Regions from separate parts of the Homo sapiens genome. Here region 1 is linked to region 2. The links come from fine-mapping of genetic effects on gene expression. Tissue or cell type: whole blood. Region 2 holds a variant in brackets; the other region holds the start of a gene. All regions are shown on one strand. Distances are between the middles of the regions. Region 1 holds the start of AKIRIN2 (akirin 2). Region 2 overlaps AKIRIN2 (akirin 2).

The links.
Region 1: AKIRIN2 starts here. The variant in region 2 is fine-mapped to the expression of AKIRIN2 in whole blood (TOPMed, PIP above 0.99).

The regions. Positions count from the first base shown.
Region 1 is chr6:87,699,758-87,705,136 of GRCh38, reverse strand. It overlaps AKIRIN2 (akirin 2), which reads left to right and starts at 2,904. Exons shown (of 5, transcript NM_018064.4): 1 at 2,904-3,687. The coding sequence starts at 3,453. RefSeq lists enhancers at 2,333-2,642, 2,953-3,012 and silencers at 3,173-3,342, 3,523-3,732.
Region 2 is chr6:87,669,605-87,674,983 of GRCh38, reverse strand. It overlaps AKIRIN2 (akirin 2), which reads left to right. Exons shown (of 5, transcript NM_018064.4): 5 at 1-124. It also overlaps a transcript of ORC3 not described here. Among named protein-coding and RNA genes, the nearest start is that of AKIRIN2, 30 kb to the left of the region's middle. RefSeq lists a silencer at 2,226-2,426. The variant TGTG/G (reference allele first, on the strand shown) is at 3,069.

The sequences.
Region 1 (5,379 bases), 30 kb before region 2:
TTAAACAAAAAAATACTTTCCTCATTTTCTAGGCATTCTGGTATATTTCAAATGATAGCCTGATAACCACAATCCTCTCTGTATTAGTTTCTTACAGTTGCCATAACAAAGTACCACAAACTGGATGGCTTAACCTACAGAAATTTATTGTCTCATGGTCTAGAGAATACAACTCTGAGAAGGTGTTTTCAGGGTTGGTTCCTTCTGAGGACTGAGGGAGAACAACTTCTCTCCTAGCTTCTGGTGTTTTGCTGGCAATCTTTGGCATTCCTTGGCTTGTAGAAGCATCACCCTAATCTCTATTTTCATGTTCATGTTCATGTGGGTCAAAATTCCCTTGGGCCCATGCCTGGGTTCAAATTCCCACCCCCACCCAGTCTCCCCTTCACCCTGGCCTTTTTTTCTTTTCTTTTTTTTTTTTTTTTTTTTGAGACAGGGTCTGGCTATGACACCCTGGCCGGAGTGTGGTGGTGTGATTACAGCTTACTGCAGCCTCAACCTTCTGGGCTCATGCAATCCTCTCACCTCAGCTGCCCCGAGTAGCTGGGACCACAGGTGACCACCACCATGCCTAGTTAATTTTTTAAAAATTTTTGTAGAGATGAGGTTTCTTATCATTGCCCAGGCTAGCCTCAAACTCCTGGCCTCAAGTGATCCTCCCACCTCGGCCTTCCAAAGTGCTGGGATTACAGGTGTGAGCCACCGCACCTGGCCCAAATTTCCTTTTTTGTATAAGAATACCAGTCATATTGGATTAGGGGCCCATCCTACTACATTTAGCTAATTACATTTGAAATAATCCTATTCCTAAGTAAAGTCATATTCTAAGGTACTGGAGGTTAGGACTTCATATGAATTTTGAAGTCCTTGAATTCCCTCAAACATAGGGAATTTAACTCACAACATCACATTTCAAATGTAGGTTTTATAACTTATGGGCAAATCTTAATTTCAGAAAATATTACCAAGTGTTTAGAATTTACTAGAAATTTACCTAGTAGGTGTCTTAGTTAAGCTGCTGTTTCATTAAATGCTTATCTTTTTCAAAAGATTTTCCAAATGTAGGAAATGTAGGATATTTCCAAATATCCTAAATTAAAACTAGAAGGGCTTACTTGTTGACACAGTGTGATCAGGACTGCTGATCTCTGAAGCACTGGACAATTCTATAAAATTGTCTATAAAAAAGAATATATTGAACTACTTCTAAATATGGTTTAAAAATAATAGACAAAATGGCTATAAAACATCTGTTACTGAATAAAGAAGAATACATGAGCACTGGAAATCAGTATTTATAATCATTTGACAGTTGGCATTCACAAAATTGTTTCATATTGCACTGGTGATAGTTTCTACATATATCACTTTTTTTTTTTTTTTTTTTTTTTGAGACGAAGTCTAGCTCTGTCACCCAGGCTGGAGTGCAGTAGCTTGATCTTGGCTCACTGCAACCTCCGCCTCCCGGGTTCAAGCGATTCTTCTGCCTCAGCCTCCTGAGTAGCTGGGACTATAGGTGTGCGCCACCACGCCCGGCTAATTTTTTTTATTTTTAGTAGAGACAGGGTATCACCATGTTGAACAGGCTGGTCTCGAACTCCTGACCTCGTGATCCGCCTGCCTCGGCCTCCCAGTGCTGGGATTACAGGCGTTAGCCACCGCGCCCGGCATCATTTTCTTTTCTTTTCATTTTTTTCAGACAGAGACTCGCTCTATCACCCAGGCTGGAGTGCAGTGGCAACATCTCGGCTCACTGCAACCTTCGCCTCCCGGGTTCAAATGATTCTCCTGTCTTAGCCTCCCGAGTAGCTGCGACTACAGGCGCGCGCCACCACGCTCGGCTAATTTTGTATTTTTAGTAGAGACGGGGTTTCACCATTTTGACCAGGCTGGTCTCGAACTCCTGACCTCAGGAAGATCCGCCTGCCTCGGCCTCCCAAAGTGCTGGGATAACAGGCGTGAGTCACCATGCCCGGCTACACAGATCACTTTCTAAATTAGCGCTGTATTTGATTCTTATTTTAGGTATGTGACTAAAAGTACAACTTCTAGAAACACTTTTTTCCCCTTCCGCTTACAAAATGGATCCATCCAATATCTATTACCTAAACATTTCACTGTCTTTTGATTAGTTTTGTAACAAAGTTCACAATATATGCACCAATATTCAACAGAAGTAATGCAATGTCTGATACCACTTGCTTTTTACCCAACGCAAAACAATTTGATTCTGTAAGTCGTTCAAGTCCTATTCATTTACAGAAGCAAAGCTGGCTTTACAGAATTTCATTAGTGGATGAAGCAGCTACCTCCGAAGGGTAGAGCATCGAGTTGAATCAAGGATCCTGTAACCTGATACTATTACTGTTGTTCTGTCTGCCAGTCCTAAATAGGTTTCATAATCTCATTATCTCCTATCCTCTCCATGTGAAAGGTCTTGTTTTGGGTACTGTCGCTACCGAAATTAAGCTAACTTTGACTAGAGATTGGTTTATTATATTTCCCAGATCTGAAATCACTGTGGGAGCAACTATACGGAGAATCTTAAAAGATTTCTATGTCGCTTAGCCTGCTTTTGCCACGGGTTCGCTTTCCCATCTCCCACTGTCTCAGAACCTTCTCTTTTTTTCTCTTTTGCTTAGTTCCTCTTACACTCAAGCTGTGTAGGGGGATTTAAATTCCAACCCGGAACTCGGAATCGCGCGCCTTGCATGACGGAAGTCGTAGTTTCTGTGACTCCTCCCTTCCCGCCTTTCAAGCCGATTCCTCCCGGTACCTAAAAACTACAACTCCCAAAATGCATCCCCGGTTTGGCCCGCCCCCGTGCGCAAGCGCTCTGAGGCCGCCGGATTTGAATCGGCGGCGTTGTTATTGACGCCATATTGGGGCCGGCGGCGGGTGGGAGAGTTCTACGAGGGAGGGGAAGCGGTTGGACGTGTTCGCTTGGGTTCCTGCTGCGGCAGCTACCTCGCAATCTCTCTGCATCGATCGCCGCTCGCAAGCTACTGACCGTACTCGGGCGTATTAGGAGCCGCGTTCCAGCCTCACACCCCACGGTGCTGTTTTCGACTTCAGAAAGGATCTAGTCTCAGCACAGAAGCGCCTCAGGCGCGGCGCAAAGCTCGAGCGGACGGCGGGGGCGGCCGGAGCCTCTCTCGGGGGAGCCGCGCCTGAGGAGGCGGAAGAACCCCCCTGACGCGACTGGCGTGTGCTTCTGCCCGCCACCGCCCCTCCCGCTCTCACCCGGGCCGTCCCTGGCCACTGCCCCTGCCGCGGAGGCAGCGGCGGCAGCGGCTCTCCTTTCCACAGCCGGCGCTCCGCGACCCGCTTGGCTCCTGAGCCCGTCGGGTAGGCTCTCCTCGAGTTCCCGCTCTTCACCCCTTCCCTCACCCTCTTCTTTCGTCACCCGTCCCCGACCCCACCCGAGCCCGGCGCCTCAGCTGCCCCCGGCCATGGCGTGCGGAGCCACTCTGAAAAGGACTCTGGATTTCGACCCGCTGTTGAGCCCGGCGTCCCCGAAGCGCAGGCGATGTGCGCCATTGTCGGCGCCCACCTCGGCCGCTGCCTCCCCGTTGTCGGCGGCCGCGGCCACCGCCGCCTCCTTCTCCGCTGCGGCCGCCTCGCCGCAGAAGTATCTCCGAATGGAGCCATCCCCCTTCGGCGACGTCTCCTCCCGCCTCACCACAGGTGGGACCCGGCCCCGCGGCCGCCGGGGTAGTGGAGAGAACTGGGAACAGGGGTCCTGGGGTGTGGGATGCGGCCCCTGGGGTGGGGGTGCCGGACTGTGTGGTTCTTGTTCTTAGCAAAGTAGTAGGGCAGCCACGTTTTTCACTAGGTCCTCGTAGCCCGAGGACCTAATAAGACACAATAGAAATGGGCTGATGTCAAGGGGATAGTGTTTGGAGGTGGGTAGGGGCTTTGCCTTGCCCGTATTGGGTAGAACAGGGACATCTTTTTCTTTGGGCCGAATGATTGGAATTGTTTCCGTAGTCGCTGGAGCCCCAGCGGAAATGATCAGAGAGGACGATATTATTCGTAAATTTAGGCGAAAGGGTCACATTTCACCCCAATCTGGATGTGTGCTTGCCGTAATCGATTGGTTGCAGCTATTAACTCTGGGACTGGGTGGTTTGAGGCGAGGCTACAGCCCCTCCTTCAGTTCAGACACGGCTGATTTTAGTATAGTGGGGGTGGGGGGTGGGGGATGGATGTCACTAGGGCGAGATCTAGGCCTGTCATTAATCACCCACAAGAACGCCACTTTGGCTGAGTCAAGACCTGTTTCCCTAGCAGGGTCAACAACAAAGAAAATGCTCTTCCCGAGTACTGTAATATGATCACACTATAAGTCTAGACCTTGAGAAATGTTGAACTTTTAATAAGCATATTGCATTGAAAATTGGGGCTGAGGAGTTGCTTTTATTTGGAAATGTTTTATTTTTGCCCAACAAAGTATGCTGGGGGAAAACAACCTAGCCTTGAGAATAATGAAGAAATCAACCCAAGATTCCAAGGGACTTCAGACTTTTGCTTTTCATCTTGAAACATTTCCTGAGAGAGACTGGGGAATGTCTTTTGGCTGCTTTGTAGGGCATGTGTATGCCCAGTTTTTTCTGTACTTTGAAATCCTTGTGTGCCCCTGGCACAATCCTAGGATAGGCTTTTGTGGACTAGAAGTGTAAATGTTTCCTTTGTGTGTAGCATGCAAAGATTTCTGTGTGAGCCTTTAGTAATAATATCACCCTTTAGACAAAGCCTTTCCATAGCTTGATTTAAATGTCTCGTTATCAGTAGCTTAAAAAACCGAAGTATATACCTCTGTATTTGGTGACTTCCATTTGAAACTGACTTTAGTGTTTTTTTTTTTTTGTCACATTTAAAAATATTTTCTAAATCCATGGAGTGACCCTCGAATATGCAAGCTACCATTTTTGCTATTAAATATTTGGTCTAATTTAAGGACATACTGTTTTAGAGTTGTAGTGAGTTTTTACGGAAATTCTTAGATAAATTTATTTAATGACCTTACTAAACTGTGTTTTAATTAGATTGAAAAGGCATTTGTTGATTAATTGTTAGGCTTTACTTTGGGAAAAAAAAAAGGAAACAGCCAATGTCAAGAATGAGCTACTGGTGGTTGACATTTTTGGAATTTGTCTTTTAGTGAAATGGTATCATTGGAAATTGAAATGGATTCTGTACTTAACTAATAAAGCCATTTCAAAATAAGGTCATTAAGGAGCTAACCAGCAATACATTTCAGTCGAGGGAGTGAATTAATACAGTGCTAGGTTTGGGAATTAAAGTACTATATCTCAATGTCAAAATAATCTTGGGCATGTATGTGAACAATTGGGGACTATACCATGTTCCTCCCCT
Region 2 (5,379 bases):
TGTTTTACTGCCCTTGTAGTACTGGAATTTAGTTGGAAGAATAAAACATTTACTTCTATTTTGCTTGTTTCTTAATGTACAGATGGGGTTAGTATTTGAATAAAGTTGGTGTTTTAAAACGTAAGCATTTTCCAGGAATCAGTGAAGTTAATTTTCTAAGATTTGAGTGCTGTTTCAAAACACTGAGTTCTGATTCTAAATGCCTTCTTCTGCTGGGCGCGGTGGCTCATGCCTGTAATCCCAGCACTTTGGGAGGCCGAGGCGGGAGGATCACGAGGTCAGGAGATCGAGACTATCCTGGCTAACACAGTGAAACCCCATCTCTACTAAAAAAAAAAAAATATATATATATATATATAAATTCCTTCTTCTGTAACTTACTGCCTGATAGAATGTTACAGGTATTTTAATTGCTATAGAATTACCTCAGATATCAGTAGGATCCAGTTTTTTCTTTTAAGAACTTGATATGCAAAAGCATGATTCAGCAAATTTGACTCCCTTTCCATACATGGTTTCTAGACATAGCTTTCTTATAATGAAGTAAGCAAAAACATGCTTCAGTGAATTCATTTGTTGAATTCTAGTAGCATATTTCCAAAATTTAAGACAATCTTAAATACACATTTATAACTGACCAAGTTAGAAGAAAAAGGAATTTTTTTTTTTTTTTTTTTTTTTGAGATAGAGTTTTGCTCTTGTTGCCCAAGCTGGAGTGCAGTGGCACGATCTCGGCTCACTGCAATCTCTGCCTCCCAGGTTCAAGCGATTCTCCTGCCTCAGCCTCCTGAGTTGCTGGCATTACAGGAATGTGCCACCACACCCGGCTAATTTTTTGTATTTTTAGTAGAGACAGGGTTTCACCATTTTGGCCAGGCTGGTCTCGAACTCCTGACCTCAGGTGATCTGCCCACCTCGGCCTTCCAAAATGCTGGCGTGAGCCACTGCGCCCAGCCAGACCTCTTTTATTTTTAGCTTTGGTAATTACATTTCACCAATTCTCTGTTTAAAACAAGCCTAGAAAGTGGTTTCACAAGGTGCCCAGGCAATTTATATGCCAATTAGTGGTTGAGAAACATTGGTATAGCACAGGGTAGCAATAAGGTGCATGATTCTATGCCCTTCCCCCCTACTTTTTTTTTTTGAGATGGAGTCTTGCTCTGTCACCAGGCTGGAGTGCAGTGCTGCCATCTCGGCTCACTGTAACCTCCGCCTCCCGGGTTCAAGTGATTCTCCTGCCTCAGCCTCCCGAGTAGCTGGGACTACCGGCATGCACCACCACGCCCAGCTAATTTTTGTATTTTTAGTAGAGACGGGGTTTCACCATGTTGGCCAGGATGGTCTCGATCTCTTGACCTCATGATCTGCCTGCCTCAGCCTCCCAAAGTGCTGTGATTACAGGCGTGAGCCACTGCGCCTGGCCAATTCTACCCCCTTTTAATGGTCTAGAACAGAGATTCTCAACTTCAGCACTACTGGCAGTTTGGGCCAGATCATTCTTTGTCGTGGTGGCTATTGCTGTGCATTATAGGATATTTAGCCACATCTCTGGCCTCTACCACTAGAGGCCAGTTAAACCCCCTCCCACAATTGTGATAACCAAAGTGTTTGCAGACATTGCCAAATGTCCCTGAGGGACAAAACAGTTCCCAGCTAAGAACCACTGGTTAGCAGGATAGCCTGTAGTCCCAGCTACTTGGGAGGCTGAAGCACGAGAATCGCTTGAACTCAGGAGGCAGAGGTTGCAGTGAGCTGAGATCATGCCACTGCACTCCAGTCTGGGTGACAGAGTGAGACTCTGTCTCAAAAAAAAAAAAAAAAAAAAAAAATTTTTTTTTTTTGCTCCACAGCCAAATTTCTGCATTATCACTTATGCAAAAGTCCTAGCTTATGGGCTACTCTGACTTTAGATGGGTCCGGTAGTTGATTAGTCCAAATAACCAACCACACATGATTTCAATAGATTATTTTAGCTACCTAGGGATTCTGAATTCCCCAAATCCCTGAAATTGCTTGTAATAAGTATCTACAGAATTGTGTTAATAGTCATCTTATTCTTCCAGTAAAAGGCAGTACTGATACAGTACTGTACTATGATGTGTTTAGTAAATCTTTAACAAGTGCACATAGGTATAAGCGTTTGTACTTTTGGAAAAATAGGCAATCTGAGAAAAATAAATATTGGAGGTTTAAACTACTAAAGCTGTCTTTGGCCTATGGCAAGCACTTGACACGACCCTAAAGAAAATGGTAGAAGGTTCTCAGGCTCTACCTATCCCCAGAGACTGCTTTAGACAATTGGTGGGAGGGGAGAACTTTTGGAATCTGTTTAATATGCTGCCTAGGTGATTTAAGCAGCTAGGGTTGGAAATGACTTGTTTTTGCCCTGTTTGGGTTCTCTTTACTCCTTTCAAACTCTTACAGTAATTGGTATTAAATGAATATTCTACAAAAGCACCCGAATAGTCTATGTCTACTCATGGATACATGGCTCCCACAATTCTCTTGCTCCTGCATTTGCCCCAGGTAAGGAGCACGAGATGCAAACCTATGTCTCAGGCAAAGATACAGCTCCAGCAGTCCTCTCCTCTCTCTACTGCATCTATTTTCTTTCTCTACTAAATCATTTCCAAAAGCATAATAAGCATGTTATTAAAAAATCTTTTGATCCTATATCCCTTGCTAGTGATTATTTTAGTGCTCCCCTTTATAAAAGCAAAACTCAGTTTTCTAAACTTCCTCCAGTTTATTACCCCTTCCTTTTTTTTCACCAACTTGTTTTATTAGGAAAAGAAATTCAAACAGAAAAGTTGACTTTCCCACTTAAAATACTTCCCTAATTTAACATCGAGTCCTTATTTCAGATTTTTCCATGTGTCTCTTTTTTAAATAGCTACCCTCATCCCCCAAACACGATTCAATTAAGATTCCTACTTTCTGGAAATACTAGGCCTGTTGTCTTGTTGAGTTTTTCTTTGTACTGTCATTAATTTTAACTTCTGATATCCCTTTGAACTTTCTGTAAACTGAAAGGTCTAAAGTTTTCGCAAGTTTCGGGTTAAACTTGT[TGTG/G]CAAGAGTGCAAGGTGATGCTATGGTCTCCATATTGCATCACAACAGTTACGGCTTTTCCAGGCTGTTAAGTTTGGACACTTGGTTAGGTCATCTGATAGGTGATTAGAGTTCGTCTCCTCTCTGTTACTCTTAGTAAAAGGCAGCAAAGATTTCCACATTGTTAAATCTAATCAGCAGCCAGCATTTGACCTTGAAGCACTCTTCAGTTGGCTTGCAAAATACTACACTTGCTTTGACGTTTCTCCTTTACTGGCTGCTCCTTCTCTGTCTTGCTGTTGGCCCAATCTTCATTTCCCTGCATTTTGCTAAAACATAGGTGTGCCCCCGAGCTTGACCTTGGGCTGCTTGCCTCCTCTCTTAGTACTCATCTTGGTGATCTCATCATAAGGACATCAGATTATATTAACGTCTTCATGTGACATCTTCAGTTAGGTATCTAGTAGACACCTCGAAATTTACGTCTAAAACTTACTTTTGCCTCTGAAATTTTTCCTCTCAGTCATCCTCAATCACTTAATGGCCACTCCATTCTTTGTTTCTAGGCAGAAATGGTCTTGCACTCCTCACATCCTTCATCTGATCTTAGTTCCACCTTAAAATATTAACATCTCTACTGCTATTACCCTAATCCAAGACACTATCATAGCTTGCTTGGATTATTTCTGTGGTTTCCTAACCGGTCTTTGTTTTGCCTCATTTTGTCTCCTCTCACCCATCCTATTCTACTCTCATAGCAACCAGACTGATCCTTTAAAAGTCTAAGTCTTGTTTAGATGGCTTCCTAAGTAAAAGTAAAACTTCACAAAGGTCTGTGGAGCCCTAAATTACCTGCACTCTACCCCACCTCATTCAATTCCTATTGAATTCCTCCTGCTCACTCTACCTTGTCCACATTGGCCACTTTTGCTGTTTTTCCAGCATAGGATTTTTGTTACTGCTAGTGTCTGCCTAGCATGCTCTTCTCCCACAAAACTTCATGGAAAATTTTTTCACCACTTTTGACTTTTTGCACAAACGTCATCTCAATGAAGCCTGCTCTGACCACTCTTTAAAATTGCAGCCTGACATCCTGGTGCTCTGCCCTGCTGCTTTCTTTGTTTTACTTCCTGTGCTAAACGCAGTGAAGGCAGGGTTCTTTGCTCACTGGCATACAGTGCCTGGCACATGGCACATGCTTGGTACTTTTTGAATGTATTTCACCCTACTTCGATTCAGGGTTTTCAGATCAGTATTTCATTAAATGAAAGATTTAGTAAGGCAGAATACTTCCTTTGTAAGATATTTTGGTAGAGGTTTCCTGAATTACAGAATGGACACAGAATTGAACTGGCATTTCATAGGCTGTCTTGAGGGTTTTGTGCTCCATTAATGATTACCACAAAGGAGCTTCATGTTTTAATTTTATAGCTCTTTTGTGTATTCATTGTGAAAATAGGGCAGTTTTCGACTGGGCACGGTGGTTCATGCCTGTAATCCCAGCACTTTGGGAAGCCTAGGTGGGTGGATCGCTTGAGCCCAGGAGTTCAAGACCAGCCTGGCCAACATGGCAAAACCCCATCTCTACTAAAAATACAAAAATTAGCTGGGCGTGGTGGCACACACCTGTGGTCCCAGCTACTTGGGAGGCCGAGGCAGGAGAATGGCTTGAACCCAGGAGGCAGAGGTTGCAGTGAGCCCAAATCGTGTCACTGCACTCTGGGTGACAGAGTGAAATTCTGTCTCGAAAAAGAAAATAGGGCAGTTGCCATCCTGCTACTTTCTTACATAATCTTTAGTGAGGAAAGTCAAAGTGGTTCAGGGCATGACATGCGTTTATGTTGGATAAATTCAACTTAGTGCCCAGCAGAGGAAAAGTAAGGCATGGCTACTTACTCTACTCAGTGAATCTGTGCCTTATATATGAATCTGCTGGTCTGTGTGAGGCCAGTTCCTCTGTACCTTACAGTGTAAAAAGCATCTTGCTGTATGAGTGTTGTTCAAAGTAATAGTTTCTAAACACTGACAATTTTATCTGGTGCTCATATGCATCATTTGAAACTACATTGTACGTAGTGATGGTGTCCTTGTATTGGAAGACCTTCCCTGTTGCCAACTTCCTTACCTTAAATAGATGGAAAAATCATTAAAATCACCTATTCTTTCCCTAGATTTGTACCAACCATTGTTTAAAAAATGAAACACATGGTTGGAGGCAAGACTAGAAGAAGAATGACTAGAATATTGCGAAAAAATATTGAGCTAATTGCTATGAAGGTAAATCATGGAATCTCAGTGACTTAACATGAGAAATTTATTCTTTGATCATA